Homo sapiens: one gene and its partners. The protein of the gene in region 2 purifies or fractionates together with the protein of the main gene of each other region. This does not show direct contact. Each region holds a gene or a part of one and is shown on either strand. Other genes may lie near its edges.

Evidence for each region.
Region 1: the proteins of YJU2B (region 2) and ESS2 purify together in Homo sapiens (co-immunoprecipitation; 2 studies listed by BioGRID and IntAct, with this or other methods). This does not show direct contact.
Region 3: the proteins of YJU2B (region 2) and KDM8 purify together in Homo sapiens (affinity purification with mass spectrometry; 3 studies listed by BioGRID and IntAct, with this or other methods). This does not show direct contact.
Region 4: the proteins of YJU2B (region 2) and PPP2R2D purify together in Homo sapiens (affinity purification with mass spectrometry; 3 studies listed by BioGRID and IntAct, with this or other methods). This does not show direct contact.
Region 5: the proteins of YJU2B (region 2) and RIOX2 purify together in Homo sapiens (affinity purification with mass spectrometry; 2 studies listed by BioGRID and IntAct, with this or other methods). This does not show direct contact.
Region 6: the proteins of YJU2B (region 2) and UBR2 purify together in Homo sapiens (affinity purification with mass spectrometry; 2 studies listed by BioGRID and IntAct, with this or other methods). This does not show direct contact.
Region 7: the proteins of YJU2B (region 2) and AQR purify together in Homo sapiens (co-immunoprecipitation; 2 studies listed by BioGRID and IntAct, with this or other methods). This does not show direct contact.

Annotation. Positions count from the first base shown.
Region 1 is NC_000022.11:19,138,152-19,141,651, forward strand, and holds part of ESS2 (splicing factor ESS-2 homolog), read right to left. Parts: intron 1,877-3,500; coding exon of another isoform or gene 1,874-1,876; coding exon 1,704-1,873; intron 1,579-1,703; coding exon 1,461-1,578; intron 1,142-1,460; coding exon 1,008-1,141; intron 329-1,007; coding exon of another isoform or gene 269-328; exon of another isoform or gene 167-268; coding exon 64-166; intron 1-63. UniProt on the Homo sapiens protein: May be involved in pre-mRNA splicing.
Region 2 is NC_000019.10:13,750,895-13,754,394, reverse strand, and holds part of YJU2B (probable splicing factor YJU2B), read right to left. Parts: intron 2,788-3,500; 5' UTR 2,587-2,787; coding exon 2,584-2,586; intron 107-2,583; coding exon 53-106; intron 1-52. UniProt on the Homo sapiens protein: May be involved in mRNA splicing.
Region 3 is NC_000016.10:27,206,526-27,210,025, reverse strand, and holds part of KDM8 (bifunctional peptidase and arginyl-hydroxylase JMJD5), read right to left. Parts: intron 1-3,500. UniProt on the Homo sapiens protein: Bifunctional enzyme that acts both as an endopeptidase and 2-oxoglutarate-dependent monooxygenase.
Region 4 is NC_000010.11:131,949,508-131,953,007, reverse strand, and holds part of PPP2R2D (serine/threonine-protein phosphatase 2A 55 kDa regulatory subunit B delta isoform), read right to left. Parts: exon of another isoform or gene 2,604-3,500; intron 1-2,603. UniProt on the Homo sapiens protein: Substrate-recognition subunit of protein phosphatase 2A (PP2A) that plays a key role in cell cycle by controlling mitosis entry and exit. Involved in chromosome clustering during late mitosis by mediating dephosphorylation of MKI67.
Region 5 is NC_000003.12:97,955,432-97,958,931, forward strand, and holds part of RIOX2 (ribosomal oxygenase 2), read right to left. Parts: intron 1-3,500. UniProt on the Homo sapiens protein: Oxygenase that can act as both a histone lysine demethylase and a ribosomal histidine hydroxylase. Is involved in the demethylation of trimethylated 'Lys-9' on histone H3 (H3K9me3), leading to an increase in ribosomal RNA expression.
Region 6 is NC_000006.12:42,675,529-42,679,028, forward strand, and holds part of UBR2 (E3 ubiquitin-protein ligase UBR2), read left to right. Parts: intron 1-527; coding exon 528-663; intron 664-1,254; coding exon 1,255-1,345; intron 1,346-3,010; coding exon 3,011-3,141; intron 3,142-3,500. UniProt on the Homo sapiens protein: E3 ubiquitin-protein ligase which is a component of the N-end rule pathway.
Region 7 is NC_000015.10:34,851,282-34,854,742, forward strand, and holds the end of AQR (RNA helicase aquarius), read right to left. Parts: 3' UTR 501-3,461; downstream 1-500.

The DNA of each region.
Region 1 (3,500 bases), on a different chromosome or scaffold from region 2:
GAAGCCCACCTCCCCCAGGGAGTCCCAGCAGTAGACCCACTTGCCAGTGGGCACTTTTCTCACCAGGGGCAGGGGAAGGAGTGGCAACAAATCCAAATCCACCCACTCGAGGGGACTCCTGGGGGATCAGCTCCTTGCCATCGGGGCCCACCTTGCCCTGTTTGTGCTGGAACAAGCAGAGAGGCTGGCATCAGGGGGACCGCAGCCCACGCTCGACAGCTGGCCGGTGGGCAAACACGTGGGAACATGCTGGAAACACTTCCTCTCCTCAGGGCAAGGCTGGGGCTCTGGGGTTGGCAGCCTTCTTGGAGAAAGAGAGGGAGGGCCCCTGCCCCAACCCCCCAAAAGACCTTGAGGGCCTGTCAAAGTGGGTACCCAAGCAAGGAAAGCCCCCTCCTCCCATCCAGGGAGGTGCCAGGGCCTCCACTCGAGCTGCGCCTATCCCAGCAACTCCAGAGGATGCTGACGCCAGGCCCCTGCAGGGGGCAATGCTGATGACAGGCAATGCTGATGACAGGCAATGCTTATGCTCTAGTCTCTTCCTGCCTTCCCCACTTCAACCCTGTGACTGCCACAGTCACCATCAGAGAGTATCTACTCGTCTTGCTCCCAGACTCAGAAAGCCTCTGCTCTCTGCCAACCCAGGGCCTGTCCCACCCCAGCCACCCCCTGGGGCTGGGCTCCCTCTGCGGCTCTCTGGCTTCCCTGCCCGGTGTGTGGGCGTGCAGCTGCCAGCCTGGGCTCACTCCCAGCAGTCCCTTTTCTCTCCTGCCCCTGCCATCAAGGGAGCTGGCACAGATCTGGACCTACAGAACGTGTGTGACCAAGGCAGTGTTCAATGGAAGCCCACTGGGGCCAAGGAAAGACTCAGGATCCTGCCGCACAGGGCCCCAGATGGTTCCACTCACTGAGCTCTGCCAAGCTCAAAGAGATGGGAGAGATCATGCCTGCCCCCAGGCAGCCCTGTCCAACCTGGCCCATGCGGCCCTGCTGACCCGCCTGCTCACCTGGGCATTGAGGGCGGCTGCCTGCTGGAGCTGGCACCTGCTCAGGGCTTGGCTGAAGGGGTCCCTAAGGAAGCGCGTGTTCTTATGTACCACCTGCCGGGGCTTCTTAAACAGCTGCTCCTCGTCAGGGACACCTGGCAGACGAAGCAAAGGTAGCAGCAGGTGTCAGAAGGGCAGCAGCCTAAGGAGCATGAGGAGCTCGCTTCTCGGCCAAGTCACTCCCAGATGAACAAAAGCATTGAGCAGAACGCAGGCCCCAGTGCCGCTGGAGAGGGTCTCACTCACTGCTGACCTCACACAGACCTGTCCACCCTTAGACAGACCAGTACCCATCAGAAGCCCAAACTGCAAGGGGGCACGGCCATACACACCTGGAAGGCTGCTCCAAACACAGCCAGACACACACAGCTCTACCCAACACCTCCCCATTTGGCTGCGAGGCCCGCCACTTACCCTCTGGATAGTACATGAGGGAATTCTTGGCCTTGTACTTCCAGGTCTCCACACTGGCCTGGCTGCTCTCGATGGCCTGGTGCTCTGCTGACGGGAGTTCGAGATTATCTTTCTGCCTCTGCAATCACATGGGGAAAAGTGATGGTCAGAGATGCCCCTGGGCATTGTACCCATGGCCCTGGGGCTCCCCAACCACCACAGAGGGTGCCTACGCCTATGTGACACCCCAGACCCCAGAGACACCTTCTCAAACTCTTCCTCAGCCTGGTAGAGCCAAGCGTGGCGTGCCCGGCTTCTCTCCTTGGCCACCTCCATGATCTCCTGGAAGGAGGCATTGTCCTCACTCGTGTAGCGGCTCAGGAAGACATCTAGGCTGGGCAGCGGCTCCTTCTCCTCCTCCTCTCCAGCCTCTCCTGCTTAGGGGTTGCGGGAGGAGGAACACAGCACCCTTTGCAGTCAGGAAAGAGGAGGACACCCAGGCCCAGGAATCATAGCCCCCAACATGCAGGGCTGGAATCCTCTCCCCTGGTCCTGGCTTCTGCCCATGAAAGCCCACACTGCCAAGGACTCCCCACGGGGGCAGAATCCACCCACCCTGACTGCCCAGAGAGCCCTCAGGTGGTACCCTACAGATTCAGGGCCAGCTCTGCTCATGTGCTGGATGCCAAGGGAATTACGTGGTCTGATTCAGACTGGAGAAAGCAATACAGGTGTTAGAGCAAGAGCTCGTGATCACAGGCAGGCTCCTCCCCCACCAAAGTGGTGCCAGGCCTGTGGGTGCCAGGCCTCCAAATCCCTGGGGCTCTCCCTCACTCCCTAGGATTTCCTTACCTTACCCACTCTTCTCTTCCTGGTACCTGTACTACAGGTGGGTGGTCATCGCCTAATCATCCTGACCTGAGAGCGAGCCCCAATTCCAGGGATCTCATATGACTTAGTCCTCTGGATGGGGCCTCACAGGTGCTAAGCCACAACCCCAAACACCCCCCCCTCCGACCAACCCTGCCACCATGGAAAGTGGTACTCCCACTGAGGTGGTGCCCTGGTGCTGCGTGTGGTGGTGCAAACTTCGGTGGGGCCACCTGGAGAGCTCTGCCTTCAAGTCTAGTGACAGTCCTGACCACCTGCTACACGTGAGGCTATGCACAAGGCACAGTGGCTACAAGCTCAAGACCCACGGGATGAGGACAGGGGTCAGAAACTCTATTCATCTCAGAGAGATAAGAAGTGAAACCCTGACCATCTCTGAGACCTGCAGAAGTGACTGCCTTTCTGAGCCTCAGTTTCCTCACCTGTAAACATGATGATGGTTCCTACCACTTAGGTTCTGAAAAGGATTCCTATATTTACTGGCATGTAGGTGTACAGGTATTGAAAATCTGCAAACTGGCTAGGCATGATGGCTCACACTTGTAATCCTAGCACTTCGGGAGGCCAAGGTGGGAGGATCACTTGAGCTCAGAAGTTTAAAACCAGCCTGGGCAACATAATGAAACCTCATCTCTATAGGAAAAAAAAAAAAAAGGAGAAGAAAAAAATCTACAAATTGCCCTGTGATGCACAAGCTACATTTCAACAGATAATCAAGCTTCAAGGACAACAAGGACTGTGTTAATGGCCGAAAAAGCTGGATTGTAAAGCAAAAAGTATCATGTTTGCATGTTTGTGCAAACACACAACACATCTGTGCTACTCCAGCACAGTGGAGTCTACAAACTGATAAGAAAGAGTGTCTCGTTTGTCTATACATGCACTGACATTCTACTACTGATGAAAAGAGGGCCTGACAACGCAGAAGTCCCATGGCGTGCAGAACACTTGCATTCAACAGGACTCGGAGTGCCCTTTCCTAAACCGACTCCCCCATCAAGTCACGATGTTACCATATAGAGCTGTGTGTCCCAGCAAACATGCTGAAGATGACAACTCTTTCATCTGTTCCATGTGTATCTGTGCAAGGCCCACAACACCACATGTGCTGTTCCCAACACGGAGCATACAGATGAAAGCAAAACAAAGCTTCTGCTCTTGTGCAAGGGA
Region 2 (3,500 bases):
GATGACGTGGGTCTTTTTGCTACTGTGGACCTGGAGCGGAGAGCCTGCTTACCTTCTCAGGGTTGAAGTCTGGAGGATAGTACTTGTTGACCCCTTTCCTTTCACCCTGCAAAGCAGAACAGAGACATGACTCAGAGAGAGGCTGATATGGTTTGGCTGTGTCCCTACCCAAATCTCATTCAAAAAAATTTTTTCTGATTTTTTATTTTACTATTAATTTTTAGAGATGGAGTCTTGCTCTGTCACCCATGCTGGAGTGCAGTGGTGCGATCTTGACTCACTGTAACCTCCGTTTCCCGAGTTCAGGCGATTCTCCTGCCTCAGCCTCCTGAGTAGCTAGGATTACAGGCATGCACCACCACGCCCAGCTAATTTTTTGTATTTTTAGTAGAGATGGGGTTTCACCATGTTGGCCAGGCTGGTCTTGAACTCCTGACATCAAGTGATGCACCCACCTCAGCCTCCCAAAGTGCTGGGATTACAGGCGAAATCTCATCTTGAATTGTAGTTCCCATAATCCCCACGTGTCATGGGAGGGACCTGGTGGGAGGTAACTGAATCGAATCATGGGGGCGAATCATGCTGTTCTCATGACAGCGAATGAGTTCTCGAGAGACCTCATGGTTTTACAAGGAGCTTTTCCTCTTGCTCATTCTTGCTGCTGCCACGTGAAGAAGGATGTGTTTGCTTCCCCTTCTGCCATGATTGTTAAGTTTCCTGAGGCCTCCCCAGCCATGCTGAACTGTGAGTCAATTAAACCTCTTTCCTTTATAAATTACCCAGGCTTGAGTATGTCTTTTTTTTTTTTTTTTTTTTTTTTGAGACAGAGTTTCACTCTTGTTGCCCAGGCTGGAGTGCAATGGTGCGATCTCATCTCACTGCAACCTCCGCCTCCCGGATTCAAGCAATTCTCCTGCCTCAGCCTCCCGAGTAGCTGGGATTACAGGCATGTGCCACTACGCCCAGCTAATTTTTTTGTATTTTTAGTACAGACAAAGTTTCACCATATTGGCCAGGCTGGTCTTGAACTCCTGACCTTGTGACCCACCTACCTCGACCTCCCAAAGTGCTGGGATTACAGGCGTGAGCCACCGCGCCCAGCCCTTGGGTATGTCTTTATGAGCAGCGTGAGACTGGACTAATACACAGGCTCCCTCCAGGAAACCTACTTGTGCAGCCTCAGGGGGCAGGACCTGGATAAGGGGGACTTGGGGACATTTTAGAGGACAGTGCTGGGCTCAGTGTCTGATTGGGGAAGGGCTACTTGGGCAAAAAACCCATTGTCATTGCTTTGGAAAATTCCATGAGGTTCAGATGCTCCTATGGTGGCTTTCACACTCTTTTGGAGACTGTGATTGACGGTAAGAAGTATTTAACATTGCCACTGGGCAGATACACATGTAGTACCGTTGAACACAGGTCTCAAGAAAGAACACTGAGCCTGGCTGAAGAGTCGCTCTTGTTTTCTTCTTTTTTTTTTTTGAGACAGAGTCTTGCTCTGTCACGCAGGCTTGGGTGCAGTGGTGCAATCTTGGCTCACTGCAACCTCTGCCTCCTGAGTTCAAGCAATCCTCGTGCCTTAGCCTCCTGAGTAGCAGGGACTACAGGAATGTGCTACCACATCCAACTAATTTTTGTATTTTTTTTTTTGAGATGGAGTTTCGCTTTCGTTGCCCAGGCTGGAGTGTGGTGGCATGTTCTCAGCCCACTGCAACCTCCACCTCCCGGGTTCAAGCGATTCTCCTGCCTCACCCTCCAGAGTGGCTGGGACTACAGGCTCCCGCCAACACGCCTGGCTAATTTTTGTATTTTTAGTAGAGACGGGGTTTCACCACGTTGGCCAGGGTAGTCTCAAACTCCTGACCTCAGGTGATCCACCCAGCTCAACCTCGCAAAGTGCTGGGATTACAGGCGTGAGCCACCGCGCCCAGCCTAATTTTTGTATTTTTAGTAGAGACAGGGTTTCGCCATGTTGGCCAGGCTGGTCTCAAACTCCTAATCTTAAATGATTTGCCTGCCTTGGCCTCCCAAACTGCTGGTATTACAGGCGTGAGCCACTGTGCCTGGCCTTGCAATGGTTAATTTTATGTTATATGAATTTCACCTTGTTAAAAAAAAATGAAAGAAAGAAAGAGAAAGGAAGGGGTAGGGGAGGGGGAGGGGAAAGGGGGAAGGGGAAATTTAGGTTGAGTGTAGTGGATCACTTGAGGTCAGGAGTTTCAGACCAGCCTGACCAACATGGCAAAACCCCGTCTCTACTAAAAATACAAAAATTAGTGGGACGTGCTTGCTTGAACCCAGAAGGCGGAGGTTGCAGTGAGCCGAGAGCGTGCCACTGCACTCCAGCCTAGGCAACAAAGTGAGACTGTCTCAAAAACAAAAGAAAATGAAACAAAAAAACATTTAAAAAGTGCCCATGGGTGATGTTAGCGCAAAGCCACATTTCAGACCCACTGCACCAAAAGATGATGACCCGGAGATTGAAATCATCATCTTAGAGCTCTGGGAGGGGAGGAGGGGCTGCTTCCAGGGTCCTACAAAGACTGGGAGAGAAACCCAGGGCACACGAGGCTGTCTACTCACCATCTTGGGAGCTGCCTACTGGTCCTCAGCCTCGGGGCGGACGATCAGAAACTGGCCTTGTGAACACACTGCACTGTCCTGACCTCTTGTGGAGCCTGGCAGAGGGTCCACAGGCTTCCCTGCGAAGATGTCGTGGGCCGTGTGGTGGTGCCAGCTCAGACAAGACTCCCGCCAGGCATAGGAGGCATCCAAAAAGCGGCGTGTCTGTTTAGAAAGAGAGAGTCCCGTCCACTCTACAGCCAATATACGCATCACATCTGACACTTTCATCCCTCTGTGGCCCCCACCGGGTCCAGCACCCATCATCACTCACGTGGGCCAGCACGGTCTTCTCTCTCCCGACTCTGCCCTTGACACTTGCTCACCCCACAGCTGCCCAGGGGATCTTTTTGTTTTTTGAGATGGAGTCTCGCTCTGTCACCAGGCTGGAGTGCAGTGGCGCGATCTCTGCTCACTGCAACCTCCACCTCCTGGGTTCAAGTGATTCTCCTGCCTCAGTCTCCCGAGTAGCTGGGACTACAAGCGTGCGCCACCACACCCAGCTAATTTTGTATTTTTAATAGAGACAGGGTTTCACCATGTTGCCCAGGATGGTCTTGATCTCTTTACCTCATGATCCACCCGCCCCAACCTCCCAAAGTGCTGGCATTACAGGTGTGAGCCACCATGCCCAGCTGGGATCTTTTAATATGAACAAACGTGTCACTCTCCTGCTTAAACCCCTCCCATGATTCATATGGTTTTTAGAATCAAGTCAAACCCCTTCCCACGGCCTGTGGGGCCCCTGCCTGCCTCTCCAAGCCTAACTCTTACCCCTCTATCTCTCGTTCACTCTGTTCCAGCCACACTGGCTTCCTGGCTGTCTTCAAAGGCCAAGTGCAGCTGGCCTGCACCTGCTGTTCCTCAGGTTTGCAAGC
Region 3 (3,500 bases), on a different chromosome or scaffold from region 2:
CTTCCTGCATCTCATCTGCGAGGATTTTTCAACAGCAGTCTTCTCTGTTGGGCAGAAGCTCTGGAGGGGAGGGCCCTCATCTGTCTGGGGTCACCACTGTATCTTCAGGGCCTGGCGCAACACCTGGTACTCAGCAAGCACTGGATAAACGTCTGTTCAGAAAGGAACGTGTATTGTCCTCATCTGCAGTGCCTCCCATACCCCTCCGCTGCCTGGCAAACTCCTACCCAACCTTTAAAGCCCATCTTAAATATCCCTATGTGAGGCCTGCCAAGACTCTCCAACAGTGTTCTGTGTTCCTGCAGCCCTTGAGCTTCTCTTACAGTACTCGTCAGGATGTATGAAAACACCTGCTTACACGTGTGTCTATCCAACACTGCACTGCCAGCTCCACCAGGGCAAGAACGTAGCTCATTCCCCTACGTTTCCCAGAGCCTAAAAGCAGAGTCTGCCTCATGGCAGTCACTCAGGAGTGCCAGGCTTTGAAAAGTATTCGAGAAGGCCGGCATGGTGGCTCACGCCTGTAATCCCAGCACTTTGGGAGGCCGAGGCAATTGGATCACTTGAGCTCAGGAATTCAAGACCAGCCTGGCCAACATGGCAAGACGCCGTCTCTACAAAAAATACAAAAATTAGTTGGGCACGGCGGTACATGCCTGTGGTCCCAGCTACTCAGGAGATTAAAGGTGGTGGGATCACTTAAGCCTGGGGGCAAAGGTTGCAGTAAGCCGAGATCATGCCACCAGCCTGGGTGACAGAGCAAGATCCTGACTCAAATTAAAACAAAAAAACAAAAATGAAGTGACTTGCCCCAAGGCCTACGGTCAATCATTTGTGCAGAAGCAGGGCTTAAATTCTGGCTGATCTCAGCACCCTCTCCTGTGCGCCATGTCAATGCTGCATGCTTGACATAGATTAACACGTCCCTTGCAATCCTATGATGGGAGTTTTACAGATGAATAAACTGAGATTTCGAGGTTAAGCAATTTGTGCCAAACTACACAGTAAGTGGCAGTGTCTGCCCAGAACACTCATTGCCTTCAAGGGTGAGCTCTTTGGACTTTGTATCCACAGGGCTGAGCTTATAATGAGTTCATTTCCATTCTTGGTTCACAATGAACTTTCTTTCTAGCAAGCTCAGGGTATGGTAGGGCTCAGAGAGCCCCAGCCTGCCAGGGTGGGTTCTATCTCTAGCCTCCTAGAAGGCTTGTGTTGGCCTCATTCACAGCCTTCTTGGAGCGTTTCACAGTCCAATTTCCAGCATGGACTTATCCACTAGGCCAGCACAAGACACCACATGGGCCCATCCCTGGCCTCCCTGGGTGGCCTCCTGGCTCATCCCGTGTGTGGCTTACATGAATCTTATAGAGCAACATGGAGAAGTCTCATCTTGAGCATCCAAAAGACCTCAGGGGCCTCATATCCTGGCTTCTCATAAAGGCCAGTGGAAAGGCCTCCCAGGAGACCATTTATTGCCCTACTATAAAACTGGCTTCCACTGGGGCTCTATGTACCAGCTTTGTAAACCTGTCTCTTGATGGCCTTAGAAAACAGCCTCCCAGAGGGTTTCAAATGGGCTATAAACCTGTTCTCTGCAATGCAGATTACGGGCTTTGTAAATTGGTGTTTCAGGGTGACCTTATAAAACGGCCCCTCACAGGGCGCCTATCAGCCTTACCAAGCCAGCTTCTCAAGGTGGCCTCACGTGTGCGGCTTTGTAGCCAGGTTCCCCCAGTGGCCCCGTGTCTGCTTTGTCACCTGGCCTCCCAGGGTGGCCTCATGTTTGGTCTTCATAGGCGGCCTATCTGCTACTTTGCAAATCGGCCTTGGAGACCTCATGTTGAAGGCCAATGGACACAGCCTTCTGGGAAAGATGGCCTCCTAATACTGTGAGTTGGCTGTACAAAACTATCTGCTCTTGGCCACATGAAATAGCCTTATGATTATTCTTTAATGCAGAGTTCTTCAATGAACGGCCTTATCAAAAGGCCTTCAGAGATACTTACGTTGACAATATATGATGGTTTTCCAGAGACAGAGGCTTCAGGATGGCTGTATAAGTTTGTTTTCAAAATGGCTTTTCAGATTGCCTCTGTATAAGCCACTTGAAATGGCCTCCCCAAAGGCCTCAAGATTATTATACACTATCCCCCAGCAGGGCACCTATAATCCCAGCTACTCGGGAGTCTGAAACAGGAGGACTGCTTGAGCCCAAGAATTCGAGACCAGCCTGGGCAACATGTAAAGACCCTGTCTCTAAAAACAATTAAAAAATTAGTTAGCTGGTCATGGTGGCACACACCTGTAGCCCCAGCTACTCCGGGAGCTGAAGCAGGAAGATTGCTTGAGCTCAGGAGTTTAAGGCTGCAAGTGAACTGTGTTTGTGCCTCTGCACTCCCATCTGGGTGACAGAGTGAGACCCTGTTTCAAAAAATAAAACTATAGCCTCCTACAAGGCCTTATGTTGGCAGCATGGTGAAGTGGCATTCTGGCCGCATCAGTCTTCTGCCTTGTTGCATAGGCTTCCCCAAACCTCTCATGATTTGGCCTTTTATGTAGTTACCATATCAAACAGCCACATCCTGGTATAGGAAGCAGTCTTCCAAAGCAGTTTTGTGAGATGGAGTCTTGCTCTGTCACCCAGTCTGGAGTGCAGTGATGCGATCTCGGCTCACTGCAAACTCCACCTCCCAGGTTCAAGTGATTCTCCTGCCTCAGCCTCTGAGTAGCTGGGACCACAGGCACGCATGCCATCACGCCCGACTAATTTTTGTATTTTTAGTAGAGACGGGGTTTCGCCATGTTGGCCAGGCTGGTCTCCAACTCCTGACCACAAGTGATCCACCCACCTCAGCCTCCTAAAGTGCCGGGATTACAGGTGTGAGCCACCACGCCCGGCCCTTGTAACTTGTTTTAAAAACTGGCCTTCCTATAGATGGGGGCTTGTCTGAGGACCAGGTGAAGTCAGATTTTGTCTTAGTTTTACAAATCGATCTGTGGTTTCTTCATTGTGCCAGGAAAGAATTGTTTGTTGTGTCCATCTACCCCGCTGGGAGCAGCCTCACATTGGCTCCTGTTAGCCATGCAAAATGGCCTTACAGAAGGAGTCTTGGTCTGGCTGGGGAAACACTCTCTTGCTGGCTGTATGAAACAATCTTCCAGGGTCACTGGCCTCATGGGCTATGAGAAGCAGCCTTCACACCACCAACCACTTGAGATGGCCCTCCTGGGAAGGTCAGGTGCGAGCCACAGGTCACTGCCTTTCTGAATGGCCTCAGGTCCAGGCTCATCAGCCTTCTGGCATTTCCCATATACTGGTCTGATAAAAAGGCTTCTTGTTGTATCAAGAGGTTTTCTAGAGGAAAGGACTAGCCAGAGTAGCCTTATGGCCTGGCTTTATTGATTGGCTTCCCAGAACTCCTCACTGAATTGCTGTTTATAAAGTCTTATATTAAGGCCACGTGCATCGCTCACGCCTGTCATCCTAGCACTTTGGGAGG
Region 4 (3,500 bases), on a different chromosome or scaffold from region 2:
CCCCCTGCACACCCGCAAGTCACTAAGACAGTGAACCCCCGCACACTCGCAAGTCACTGATAAGACAGGGACCCCCCCCGCAAGTCACTGCTAAGACAGTGAACCCCCCACACACACCCGCAAGTCACTGATAAGACAGGGACCCCCCCCGCAAGTCACTGCTAAGACAGTGAACCCCACACACACACCCGCAAGTCACTGCTAAGTGAACCCCCTGCACACCCGCAAGTCACTAAGACAGTGAACCCCCCGCACACCCGCAAGTCACTAAGACAGTGAACCCCGCACACCCGCAAGTCACTAAGACAGTGAACCCCCACACACCCGAAAGTCACTAAGTGAACCCCCCCGCACACCCGCAAGTCACTAAGACAGTGAACCCCCCGCACACCCGCAAGTCACTAAGACAGTGAACCCCCCGCACACCCGCAAGTCACTAGTGAACCCCCCGCACACCCGCAAGTCACTAAGACAGTGAACCACCCGCACACCCACAAGTCACTAAGACAGTGAACCCCCCCGCACACCAAGTCACTAAGACAGTGAACCCCCGCACACCCACAAGTCACTGCTAAGACAGTGAACCCCCGCACACCCGCAAGTCACTAAGACAGTGAACCCCCGCACACCCGCAAGTCACTAAGACAGTGAACCCCCCCCACACATGCAAATCACTAAGACAGTGAACCCCCCGCACACCCGCAAGTCACTAAGACAGTGAACCCCCGCACACCCGCAAGTCACTGCTAAGACAGGGACCCCCCAAGTCACTGCTAAGACAGTGAACCCCCCCGCACACCCGCAAGTCACTGCTAAGACAGTGAAACCCCCTGCACACCCGCAAGTCACTGCTAAGACAGTGAACCCCCCCGCACACCCGCAAGTCACTGCTAAGACAGCGAACCCCCCTGCACACCCGCAAGTCACTGTTAAGACAGGGACCCCCTGCAAGTCACTGGTAAGGTGGTGAACCCCCTGCACACCCGCAAGTCACTGCTAAGAGAGTGACCCCTCTGCACACCAGCAAGTCACTGCTAAGACAGGGACCCCCCTGCACTGTGTTGCCACTCTGGAAAGAAAGATGGTCTCCTATCCCATCCCCAGTTGGGGTCCTCACTTGCTAGAGTACATATGTGTCATCCCCACACACATTTATATTTTGTATACAGATTTTTTTTGTTTTTTTTTGAGACAGAGTCTCACTCTATCGCCCAGGCTGGAGTGCAGTGGCACAATCTCAGCTTACTGCAACCTCCACCTCCAAGGTTCAAGCGATTCTCCTGCCTCAGCCTCCTGAGTGGTGGGATTAAAGGCATGCACCACCATGTCCGGCTAATTTTTGTATTTCTAGTAGAGATGGGGTTTCACTATGTTGGTCAGGCTGCTCTCGAACTCCTGACCTCGTGATCCGCCCTCCTCAGCCTCCCAAAGTGCTGGGATTACAGGTGTGAGCCACTGCGCCTGGCCAATAGTTACAGATTCTTAAAACAAAACCGTCTTGTATGTCTTAAACATGTTGTATGTCATTGCACCGTACGCATTCCTCCTGAATTTTCTTTGTGGATTATCTTTGTGAGATCCACCTAGGTGATCCATGTAGTTCTAATAATTGATTCTCACTGCTTTTCAGTATATGTTATGATAGAGAACAACTTACCTGTCCATTCCTCTAATGATGCACCTGTGGGCTGTCTCCAGTTGTTTGCTATTTCAGGTATCTGAGCACGTTTTCTTGTCTGAACATGCAAGAAGCTCCCAACCCGACTGAATGTCACCAAGGAGGTCACAAGAAGGGTACTGGGTAAGACCACTGGTCTCCACCCTCTCCCCCAAACCATCATCATTCTGATGGGCATGAAAGGACGTCCCTCTGGCTTTACTTGCTGATCACTAAGAAGGATGAGCATTTCTATTTATTTTTCCATTTCTGCGAAACCCCATTCATGGTTTTTGCTCTTTTCTGAGTTGTTTGCCACCTTCTTGTTGACAACTAATTCTGCACCTATTCTGGATACTTAATCTCTGTTCGTTATCCTTTTGTGGATTTTGTTTTCACTTTTAATTTCAATATAAAGAAGTTTAAAATTTAATGTAGTTGAATTTCTTAATGTTTTCCTTGGGCTTTTGGGGCCTTCTTAAAGAAGCCCTTGTTTCCAGAGCTCACAAAGATGTCTTAGGCTTAGAAACACTCAGAGCTTATTTATTTATTGTGTGGGGCTGGTGAGGGCTCTAATTTTTCTCCCCCAAACACAGATAACTAAGGCCGTCCAGGTGGCAGAGCTTCAGAGTTTGCACTGCTCTTCCCTGCAGGCTGCGTTCCTCTGCCTATCTGTCTCAGCCCCTTTCTGCAGGGCCAGGCTCCCTTTACAGCTCGCTCTACTGAGTTTCCTGTTGTGATACATTGTTTCCCATTTGAAAATGCCTTTATCACAAGCAGATTCTTGAACGAGCATCTACTTCAAGGCTTGATTCTAAGCTGGCGGTGGAGAGTAAGGAGTCACACTTGCTGGATCTGTCACACGGCTTCTGGCTCCCACTGTGGCCGTGGCAAAGCCGAGTCTCAGTCTCGGTGTCCGCTCTCAGAGGTAATTTGCGTTTTTTCCTTGGGTGCATTTAAGATATTCTCTTTGCGTTTGGTGTCCTGCAATTTCATTATGAGATGGATGGATGCTGTGCTCCCGATCCTGTGTATTCAGGCTTTCATAATTTAGAGAAAATTGCTGGCCACTGTCACTTTAAGCCTCACACCCCCAAACTTTGTTTAAACGTGTGCTGTGCCTCACCCTGGCCTCCACGGTTCCTAGTGTCTCTTGTTTTCTGTTTGGCTCTTTAGCCCGCATTTCTTCTGGTTTTCCTTTCCATCCACTAATACAAGATCTGTTTAGCCAAAATGGACCTGCTGCTAAACCCACACAGTTTCATCTGTCATACTTGTCATTTCTAGATGTTCTCTGACTCCTTTCCAGTCTCCACGTCATGTTTGGCGGTCATGTATCATACTTGTCATTTCTAGATGTTCTCTGACTCCTTTCCAGTCTCCACGTCATGTTTGGCGGTCATGTATCATACTTGTCATTTCTAGATGTTCTCTGACTCCTTTCCAGTCTCCACGTCATGTTTGGCGGTCATGTATCATACTTGTCATTTCTAGATGTTCTCTGACTCCTTTCCAGTCTCCACGTCATGTTTGGCGGTCATGTATCATACTTGTCATTTCTAGATGTTCTCTGACTCCTTTCCAGTCTCCACGTCATGTTTGGCGGTCATGTATCATACTTGTCATTTCTAGATGTTCCCTCTGATTCCTTTCCAGTCTCCAGGTCACGTTTAGCGGTCATGTGGCTCCTGGTTCAGGCTGTTTCCTTCCTCTAGTCTGTGAATATCTCAAGCATTCTTAGTTTATCTTCTTTAACTTAGGATCTCAACAGCTGCCTTCTCGGAGGTTCAGTTCTGCTGTGGTTCTGCTGACTTGCTCACGGTGGCTTTTCCTGTATGTGCTT
Region 5 (3,500 bases), on a different chromosome or scaffold from region 2:
ATCTTCTCTCTGCAACTACAAGAGGTAGTCTAGTGCAATGGTTAAGACCATGAGCCCTGGAGAAAGAGCTCAAGAAATGCCAGCTTAAAAAAAAAAATTAAGATTCTCCTCAAAGCAAGAGGAATATATCATGATATATATTCATAAGAGCTATCTTAGTTGCAAATTTTCCCTGAATGACAACAAACTGACAGTACTTCAAGTAAATGCTTTACTGATAATTATAACTATCATTTACTGAGTGTCTCTGTGCCAGCCTGAGTGAGACTCTCAGGTATACAGTCACATGCCACTTAACAATGGGGTTATGTTCTGAGAAAAGTGGTATGTCACTGCGCAAACATCAGTGTACTTACAAATCTAGGTAGTATAGTGTACTACCTACATTACATGGTACAGCCTACTGCTCCTAGGCTCCAAACCTATACAGCATGTGACTGTACTGAATACTGTAGAAAACTGTAACACAATGGTGTTTGTGTACTTAAATATATCTAAACGTGGACAAGAAAAAACACAGTATAAACAATAATAAATGGTACATCTACATAGGACTGGAAGTTACTCTGGGTGAGCCCGTCAGTGATGGTAAGTGAATGGGAGAGCCTAGGGCCCTACTGTACACTTTTATATGACTAGCAAAGAAGTAGGGTTGTTTAGACCAGCATCACCACAAACACGTGAGTAATGCGTAGCACTACAACATTTTACAATGGCTACAATAACACTAGGTGATAGGAATTTTTCAGCTTCATTATAACCTTATGGGACAACTGTCACATATACAGTCTGTTGTTGACTAAAATGTCAACTGGCACATGACTATATTTCATTCATTTCATACACATTTGCCCCACCCTCCTGGCTGGAAAACGTAAGTAAACATTCTCCCCTACAGCCTCCTGAAGGAATGCAGTACAGCAACCCTAGAGAGATCCCTTTTAGTCTCCTGACCTTCAGAAGCATAAAATAATGAATTTATGTTGTTTTAAACCATTGAGTTTGTGGTAATTTGACAAGAAGCAACAGAAAAACTCAGACAGACATACAGATATTGCCTCTAAAGATTTTTTTTTTTTTTTGAGACGGAGTTTCGTTCTTGTTGCCCAGGCTGGAATGCAATGGCGTGATCTCGGTCACTGCAACCTCCATCTCCTGGGTTCAAGTGATTCTCCTGCCTCAGCCTCCTGAGTAGCTGGGATTACAGGCATGAGCCACCACGCCCAGCTAATTTTGTATTTTCAGTAGAGATGGGGTTTCTACATGTTGGTCAGGCTGGTCTCGAACTCCTGACCTCAGGTGATCCACCTGCCTCGGCCTCCCAAAGTGCTGGGATTACAGGCGTGAGCCACCGCACCCCGCCTAAAGATTTATTGTAAAGGAGGCAGCAAAATAATATTTTTCAATCCTCATAGCCTGCAAGGTAAATATCATGATCTCTGTTTTAATAAAGAGGAAACTGAGACTTGGATTAATAACTTGACCAAGGACATACAGCTAATAAGTGACAGCAGCTGAATTCAAACTCAGATCTGTCAGATCCCTGAGCCACAGAGTGGTGTTTCCATCACAGGCGTGATCTCATCCTGGGAGTCTGGGTCTGCAGATGAACTGCACGGGCTGCCACTAGCATAGGGGAAAGAAGCGGATAAGGGCTCCAAGACCCCCACTGTCACCCTCCCATGCCCATCCCTCAACCACAGCCACTAAGCCTTTCTATTTCATCATTGGGCATTGACACAAGGTTTCGCCTGAAGAGGCCCACTGGTTAAAAGCTCAAATGTGGGCCAGGCGCAGTGGCTCACGCCTGTAATCCCAGCACTTTGGGAGGCCGAGGCAGGTGGATCACGAGGTCAGGAGTTTGAGACCAGCCTGGCCAACATGGTGAAACCGTCTCTACTAAAGATACAAAAAATTAGCCGGGCATGGTGGTAGGCAGCTGTAATCCCAGCTACTCGGGAGGCTGAGGCAGGAGAATTGCTTGAACCCGGGAGGCGGAGGTTTCAGCTAGCTGAAATCACGCCATTGCACTCCAGCCTGGGTGACAGGGTGAGACTCTGTCTTAAAAAAAAAAAAAAAAAAATGACATGCACATACACATACACACTTGAACAATACTGTACAACATGGTCTTTCTCTGTCCAGGAGACTCAGTGCATCTCCTAATGGACTCTGTGTTGACTGTTTAATGGGCATGGGCATGGCAACAATACAAAGAATCCACACCCTTTACACTTAAAGGCCACTATGAAGCCTGACCTTCTCGGGCAGAGCAAGTAGCCAGGTCACCGGCCTGAGTAACTCAGCCCTGACTTCCGAGAGTACAGATGGCTTAGTCTTTAAAGATAACCAACCGTGAATCTATGTAAACATGATGCAACAAAGCTGGCAACCTCTGTGAAGAGCCAAATGGAAAGACAGTACGTATTTTTGGTTTGCGGGCCATGTGATCTCTGTGGCAACTAGTCCGCTCTGCTGGTGTAGTATGAACACAGGACATTAAGGAATGGGTGTGGCTGTGTTCCAATAAACTACTTACAAAAACAGGCAGCAGGCCAGATTTTCTGGTCCATGGGCCACAGTTTGATGACCACTGACTAAAAGCATAAAAAAAACCAGTAAGGTTACCTTTACTGTTGTTTATTGATTTAAGTCTCCTGTAATATAGGCACCCATCCTAAACAGCAAGATTGTTTCCCTTAGTTACTGGGAGGTAGGTAAGGATTTTGAAATCAAGAAACACACAAGGCATTGAGTAAGAAACAGGCTAATTATAACTTCGAGACACAAGAAAAACAATAAGTATATGCAAATGTGTCAGGTTGGTAGAATCTTTGGAATGGTTTAAAATAACTATTGTTTTATTGCTAAAGGAAATTAAGTTACATGTTTTAAGAAAGAGTATAAAGTTGAATTATGGAACTACTCCTATCCATGTAACGTTCTTTTCCTCAACAACCTCTTCTGCTGGGGATTGGCTATGTTCCCATCGATGTTAACTGCTCAAAGACAGATTTTCTCAGCAGCAAGATGCCAAGGAACCTGCACATGATTAAGCCACCTGAATCCCCAGAGAAGGAATCCTCAAGAACTTTCCTGATTACTACTGTTCTGGTAACTATGCAGGGGGCACAGAGATAGCCTGACATATAACCAGGATGAAAATGAGTCACACTGGAATTTTAGCAACAACAACAAAAAAAACTAAGGGATCCCTGGCTATGTTCTGCCTAAGCAACTTCCAGCCCTGTGCTGACCATCGTCTTGGATGTGGAGAAGCTGCCCAAGGCCAGAGCTTCCATTTTTCCTCTAGAGGAGTCAGTGGTTCACTGAATTCTCTTTCTTCCTGTTGGACTTGAACTGTACATGAAAACAGGTTATTTGGGAAATGAACTTAATACTTCCTTAACCCACTTCTCCAAGTGCAAACCACCAAGACTCCTTCAGAAATTACATGTGCTGGCTGACAGCAATGAGAAGCACCCTGCCCTGAAACCCAG
Region 6 (3,500 bases), on a different chromosome or scaffold from region 2:
AGTGCCCATCAAGAGTCCTGTAACTCAAGTCATTTCATGTAGCCAGTCCTATTGGATTTTCCAACATGGATGCCCTTTCTTTAAGAACAAAGATTTCTTAAAGGGAGGAGCTGAACTCAGGAGGGATCACAGTAAGAAAATGGAAATGTGACCAGGCGCGGTGGCTCACGCCTGTAATCCCAGCACTTTGGGAGGCCGAGGTGGGCGGATTACCTGAGGTCAGGAGTTCGAGACCAGCCTGGCCAACGTGGCAAAACCTCATCTCTACTAAAAATACAAAAAGTCGGGCATGATGTTGCACGCCTGTAATCCCAGCTACTCAGGAGGCTGAGGCAGGAGAATCGCTTGAACCCAGGAGGTGGATGTTGCAGTGAACCGAGGTTGCGCCATTGCACTCCAGCCTGGGCAACAGAGTAAGACTCTGTCTCAAAAAAAAAATCAAAATAAAAGTAAAAGTAAGAAGATGGAAATTTGCTTAGCTGTGAAAGGAAAGGCGATCTGTCTGATGTCCTGTGTTTGGTGCCTAGGTGGGCTTGGTGCTTGCATTTCCTGCGTTGCAGTGTCAGGATTTTTCAGGGATCAGCCTTGGCACTGGAGACCTTCACATTTTCCATCTGGTTACTATGGCACACATCATACAGATCTTACTTACCTCATGTACAGGTAACTCTTGCCTTTTTGTCAGTTTCTTGAAGGAAATACTTGAGTTTTCTGAGTTTTAAAAAAAGTATTAGAGGAAAAGGTATTTGGATGAGAATAACACATGAATAAGGCTGTTTTTTTCTGTGTATCTTCATATGAAAAGTTTTGAAACATTTCTTTCTCCTCTTAAAATTTCCTAGTAATGTGAATGTTTCTAGTTTTAATTTCATACATTCAGTAATATTTGTGTAGAATAGTAATTAAATCTTTTAGAATCTTATGTTTTAGAATGCCAATTTTGTTTTAACTTACATGTTTGTTAATGCCCACATGAATTCATCATTAAATTACGTTTTGCATTCAAAATTCTTGTTTTTCATACACTTTAAGACTATATTTATTTGATTTTACTTAAAACATGCCAGCTGGCTGTTTGGTTTGATTGAGATCAATACTGTGCTCCCACTTGAGGGATTACAATTTTGCATGTTTTCTAGGAATACTTCATGTTATATGTGAGTTTATGAATATATTTGCATGCTTAATGTCTTCAGTCCTTTTGATAACACTTAATTGGAAAATACAGAGTACTAGTATTTCCTTATCTTTCAGAAGAGAATGGCATGGATCAAGAAAATCCCCCTTGTGAAGAAGAATCAGCAGTTCTTGCTTTGTATAAAACACTTCACCAGTATACGGGAAGGTGAGTTAGTTATCTTTACATAACGCATTTCCCTAAATATTGCTAGATGATGATAGCATGAGAAAGGAATTCGTTTGTTAATTAGGGGAATTTGTTGTCTGTTGACATGTTTTTAAAATAAGACGTGGAGTGATCTGCAGAGCCTTTCTGAACTATTCATATACTAACATAATTGGAAATCTGGGAGAAAGGTGATAATATGCAGAGCTTCCCACATTTATTTGGCTGTGGAACCCTTCATTTGCTCAGGGATCTGGCAGAGACTAGAGGATAGATCAAATGTACTTTGGAAAGTTGATACTCTAAAACTTATGTTGTCTCATTCAGAATGGGAATTTAAAACTGCAAGTTAAATTGGCATAATTTATTTTTAAGGTAATATTCAGTAGTAGCAGGAATAAAATGAAATTATTAGAATTCCATGTATGGTTAGAGTCATGATTTGCTACAAATAGCAATTCAGTAGTTTGCTTAGCTTTCAACAGTATATATGTCAAGAATCTGTAGTCAGGAACCTATAAAAATGTCTGTTTTTTGACTATCCCATTTCTGAGAACCTACATTAACAAAATAATTCAACATATAGAAAAAAAACATATAGGCATATAAAGATGGACACTCCAGCCAGGCACGGTGTCTCACCCCTATAATCCCAGCACTTTGGGAGAATGAGGCTGGCAGATTGCTTGAGCCCAGGCATTTGAGACCAGCCTGGCCAACATGGTGAAACCCTGTCTCTACCAAAAAATACAAAAATTAGCCAGGCATGGTAGCATGTGCCTGTGGTTCTATCTTCTCAGGAGGTTGAGGTAGTCAGATCACCCAGGCAGGTGAAGGCTGCAGTGAGCCATCACACCACTGCACTCCAGACTGGACAAAAGAGTGAGACCCTGTCTCAAAAAGAAAAAGATGTACACTCTGATATTATTTATATTAGCAAATAATTGAAAGCAATCTAAGTGTTTGCAGGGGAATAGTTTGATATAGTGATGAATGTGTTCCAAAATATTATAAATCTATTTAAAATATGGCTCCTAGGAGCTGGGTGCAGTGGCATGTGCCTGTAGTCCCAGCTGCTCAGGAGGCTGAGGTGGGAGGATTGCTGGAGCCCAGTAGTTTGAGTCCAGCCTGGACAACTTTTCATTTTCCACATTTTCTCTTTATGTCACTATGTTACTTTTATAAATTTTAATAACATCACACCTGTAATCCCAGCACTTTGGGAGGCCAAGGCGGGCAGATCACAAGATCAGGAGATCGAGACCATCCTGGCTAACACAGCGAAACCCCGTCTCTACTAAAAATACAAAAAATTAGCCGGGCGTGGTGGCAGGCACCTGTAGTCCCAGCTACTCAGGAGGCTGAGGCAGGAGAATGGCGTGAACCCAGGAGGCAGAGCTTGCAGTGAGCCGAGATTGTGCCACTGCACTCCAGCCTGGGCGACAGAGCGAGACTCCGTCTCAAAAAATTTAATAACAGCATTGGAGGCTGTGTCACCACTTACACCTGGCATCCTATAATAACACACACCCACTTGCCTGTTAACTCACAACTTTTAAGCATACATGCCATCAGTTCCAAATGACAGTCAAGTCTGTTTTCACACTATAAGTACAGTGACCTTTTCTTAGTAGATTTCCCAATAATCTTTTTTTTCTTTTTTAGTGCCTTGAAAGAAATACCATCCGGCTGGCATCTGTGGAGGAGTGTCAGAGCTGGAATCATGCCTTTCCTGAAGTGTTCTGCTTTATTTTTTCATTACTTAAATGGAGTTCCTTCCCCACCCGACATTCAAGGTAATTTATACTTTCTTTCAAAACGTAGGGAGAGTTAGTAATCCTTTACTCCAGCAAATATAAAGATCACTTGCAAAAATGAAAATTGACTAAAAGTTCAAAGAATAGCTTATTGACTATGGTGATGTACACATTTATAGCATAAAATGTATGTTTATGCATATGTCTCCATTTATTTGGATCTCAGTAAATGACTGTTAAACTTCTGTGTAAATGTTTTTACACCTGCAAAGCCCTTCTCCCGTAAAGATCATAGTTTTGCTTTCAGATGTTAAAATGTTCAGTTATGTATTATTCATAAACAAGGTTCCTCAGATTTGAAAAGGTGAAAACTGACAATTTCAAGTGATTTTTAACTT
Region 7 (3,461 bases), on a different chromosome or scaffold from region 2:
GCAACCAACCAACCAACCAATCAAAAATGGCCCAAATGAACCAGTGAACTAAAGTAGAAAAGGATCACTTCCCATCCAGAACTGTTTTTCGAAAAATGTCAATAAATTCAGCTCTTAAAAGAGCTTTTTATATTAAACCAGGCATCTTTCAAAGAGAAGCAGCTACCTTTGAGGTTCTTGAACTTAGGTTGCAACACAAAGATAAGTATAATAGAGAGAGTGCACAATGTTAAATCAAAGGTAGAGGGGAAGAGGATTGTGGGGACAGTTATTCTGGAGATCAAGAAAGAATTCAGTATGCTTAATGCAAAGTAACTGCTGGGGTCCTTGTGTGTTAAATATTCTTATGCGAGGAAACTGTCTTCATGTTTTATATTTGCCTTCATTTTCTTTTATTATTTCCAGACCACCTCTATTGGTTATGCTAAGTAATCCTTTTCTCTTTTTGGAGTTTAAACTTTTTAAGGAAACAAAAACTAAAGAACAGAAAGCCAGACACATTGGAAATACAAACTCTTCTTTTACTGCATAAGAAATGAGAAGAAAAACTTAGTGTGAAATTCTGGAGTCTAAAATTAAAATGTAAACAGAGAATGCTCAGTGACCTTTTCTTAGGAGGCTCACATGAAGGAATGTCATGGTACATTGACCAAACTTTTATTCATTTGCATTTTCAGGATGTTGCGATTAATACCACATGACACTCAATAAATTACACTACGACATTTTGTACAAATCACTTCACTTCTGGTTTCCTCTTCGGCTGTTACTTCACCCTCTGGTTACCTGTAGGGAAAAAAAATGTATTTTGGGGCTTTATCTTTAAAGGGCGATTCACAGTTCTAGCCAATGTAAAGATATTGGTTCCCAAGGAAATAGCTACCTAAGTTATGTTTTTTTTTTTTTTTTGAAGGAGTTTTTGCTCGTCGCCCAGGCTGGAGTACAGTGGCGCCATCTCAGCTCACTGCAACCTCCCCATCCCGGGTTCAAGTGATTCTCCTGCCTCAGCCTCCACAGTAGCTAGGACTACAGGTGCCTGCCACCATGGCTGGCTAATTTTTGTCTTTTTAGTAGAGACGGGGTTTCACCATGTTGGGCCGGATGATCTCGATCTCCTGACCTCAGGTGATCCGCCCGCCTGGGCCTCCCAAAGTGCTGGGATTACAGGCGTGAGCCACTGCACCCGGCTCGTGTTCTAAGGAAATAGCTACCTAAGGTATCTTATTAAAACAAATGAACAAAAAGTTTCCCAAACTGTGTTCTAAGGAAATAGCTACCTATCTTATTAAAAAAAAACAAAAACAAAGTTTTATGCTCTAATAAGTTTGGGAAATGCTAGGTTAAACAAAGCTAAACATGATTCTTTCCAGTGGGACATCTGAGAGTCTTTAATTAGCTAACAGTGCATTGTGATTCTGCAAAGGAGGAACAATAATTCACTGTTTCCCAAACTTATCTGACCATAGAACATATTTCTCAGAGTATTTTTCAAGAGTAGTATTTTCTGTAATATATGATGAAAAATAATCGTATCGGCCATCTTTGTACATAAGGTCAAAATGTCAGGCAGCCCTGAAATAAACGCAAGCCAAAAGGTAGAGAGATAAGTGAATAAAGCTGGCACACTGTCAGTCCGGAGTACCATGCTGCATTCTGAGTCAAGCTCCAGGAAACTGAGCTAGGGTTTGTCTCTAAGAAGAAAAACTGGAGCGTCCAAAGCTTCTGGATTCCATTTAATTAAAACCCTTTTAAATTAAATCCTTGTAACTGAAGAGTATCGGTGGATGAAGAAAAAATAGTCTCACATGTCTTCATTTCCATCCTTGGCTCAGTACAGCTCCAGTTCCATTATTCTTAAACATCTATTAACATGATTGCTAAATAATTACACAGGCTAACTGCCAAGCATTTTTCACAGGAAGCAAGGCACTGCTCTTCTGGCTTATGCAAAAGGGTCACTGTTTTTTTTTTTTTTTTAACTTTATCTTGTTTTGATTGAAGAAACATCTCTAAAAATACCATCTGAGTGCAAGATAAAAAGGAAATAGCAATTCAAGGCACAAAGCTAAGCACATGCAACAATATAGATGATTTGGGGGTGGGACAGTACAGAATTCAGAACTGATAGAAGTTATCAGCTCCATATTTCAGAAAGACCTAATGTCTTCCTTCTGCTTATACTGTTCTGACAGAATTTTAATTTTGGCAGAGATCACTCTCGATGTTATGATGTACTGATTCAGAGGTCCCAAATCAGTAACCTGATCCTAGATAGATCCTCAAAGGTCAACTGCCACTAGGTGTCCCCTTCTTGATCATTCTTCATGCTGCCTGGATTGGGGCATGGCTAAGCACTCAAGTCAAAGGATTAGTTGGCAATATCCTACATTGTCAACAAAGCTTTGAAGAAAAACAGAGACAGAAACTGGTATTTACTAAGTACCTAGGTGATAAATTATTTTCATAAACATTACCCTATAAAACAGACAACTCTCCTGTCCCAAATCCAAACAGATCTTTTTCCTTTATTTACAGATAAAGAAAATGGGCTTAGAGAGGTTATAAAATTTGTCTAAGGTCTAACCAAATGCTGATAAGCAAATTAGGTACAACTCTGAGCCAGGTCTCGATGAGTCCAAAGTGTGTTTTATAATATCTTGCTGTCTCTTGATCATTACAAAATTTCATTTGTTTACAGGAGCACAAATGGCCTATTTATGCCTTTTCTCTCAGCATCTAGCAAAACATCTCAACTTTTATTACACCAACTTTGGGAGTCTTGATGATGTTTAAATCTTCTCATTCATTTGCCTAAATCAATAGAGCTATTTATCCTCAACTGTTGGCAATGAACTTTCTTAACTCAGAATTTTGAAAAAAAAAAAAAAAAAAGAAGAAGAAATTCTAAATACTTGAATTGCTTCATTTCATGCTCATTCTTTTGGGCATGGCTCTTTTTGGTTTTCTTTACAAAGAGATTCTAAAATCATGACACATTTAGATATGAAAAATAGGATGGAGAGCAATGGGAACACTAATCTGAAATAGTCACATGGCTAGAGTACCTGTGTCTGTAGTAATCCCAAACTATATAGAAAACTCTTGAATTTATTAAGCAATCCCTCATGTGTGCTTGATTGAAAAAATAAACAAAGCAGTGCCGTAGAACTGTAGACTTGGATTCTACCCCCACTCTTCCATAGTTGCCACCCTGGTTAAGTCTCTCTGATTGTTTCCTCATTATTTAAAATAAGTACAGCTCTTAAATTCCTTCAAAAATTCCCAAGATTCTACAGTCAACTGCCACTCACTTGCCTTTCCAATGAATAAACCGTTTAAAAGAATTCAAATCCCACCACCTTTACCCTTTCTAAATTCTTTTGACAAGGACAAAGGACTTACCCATCCATCTTCCACCTAAATTTGCTTTTTAGTGATAGAAAAACCAAGCAGCAAAGAAA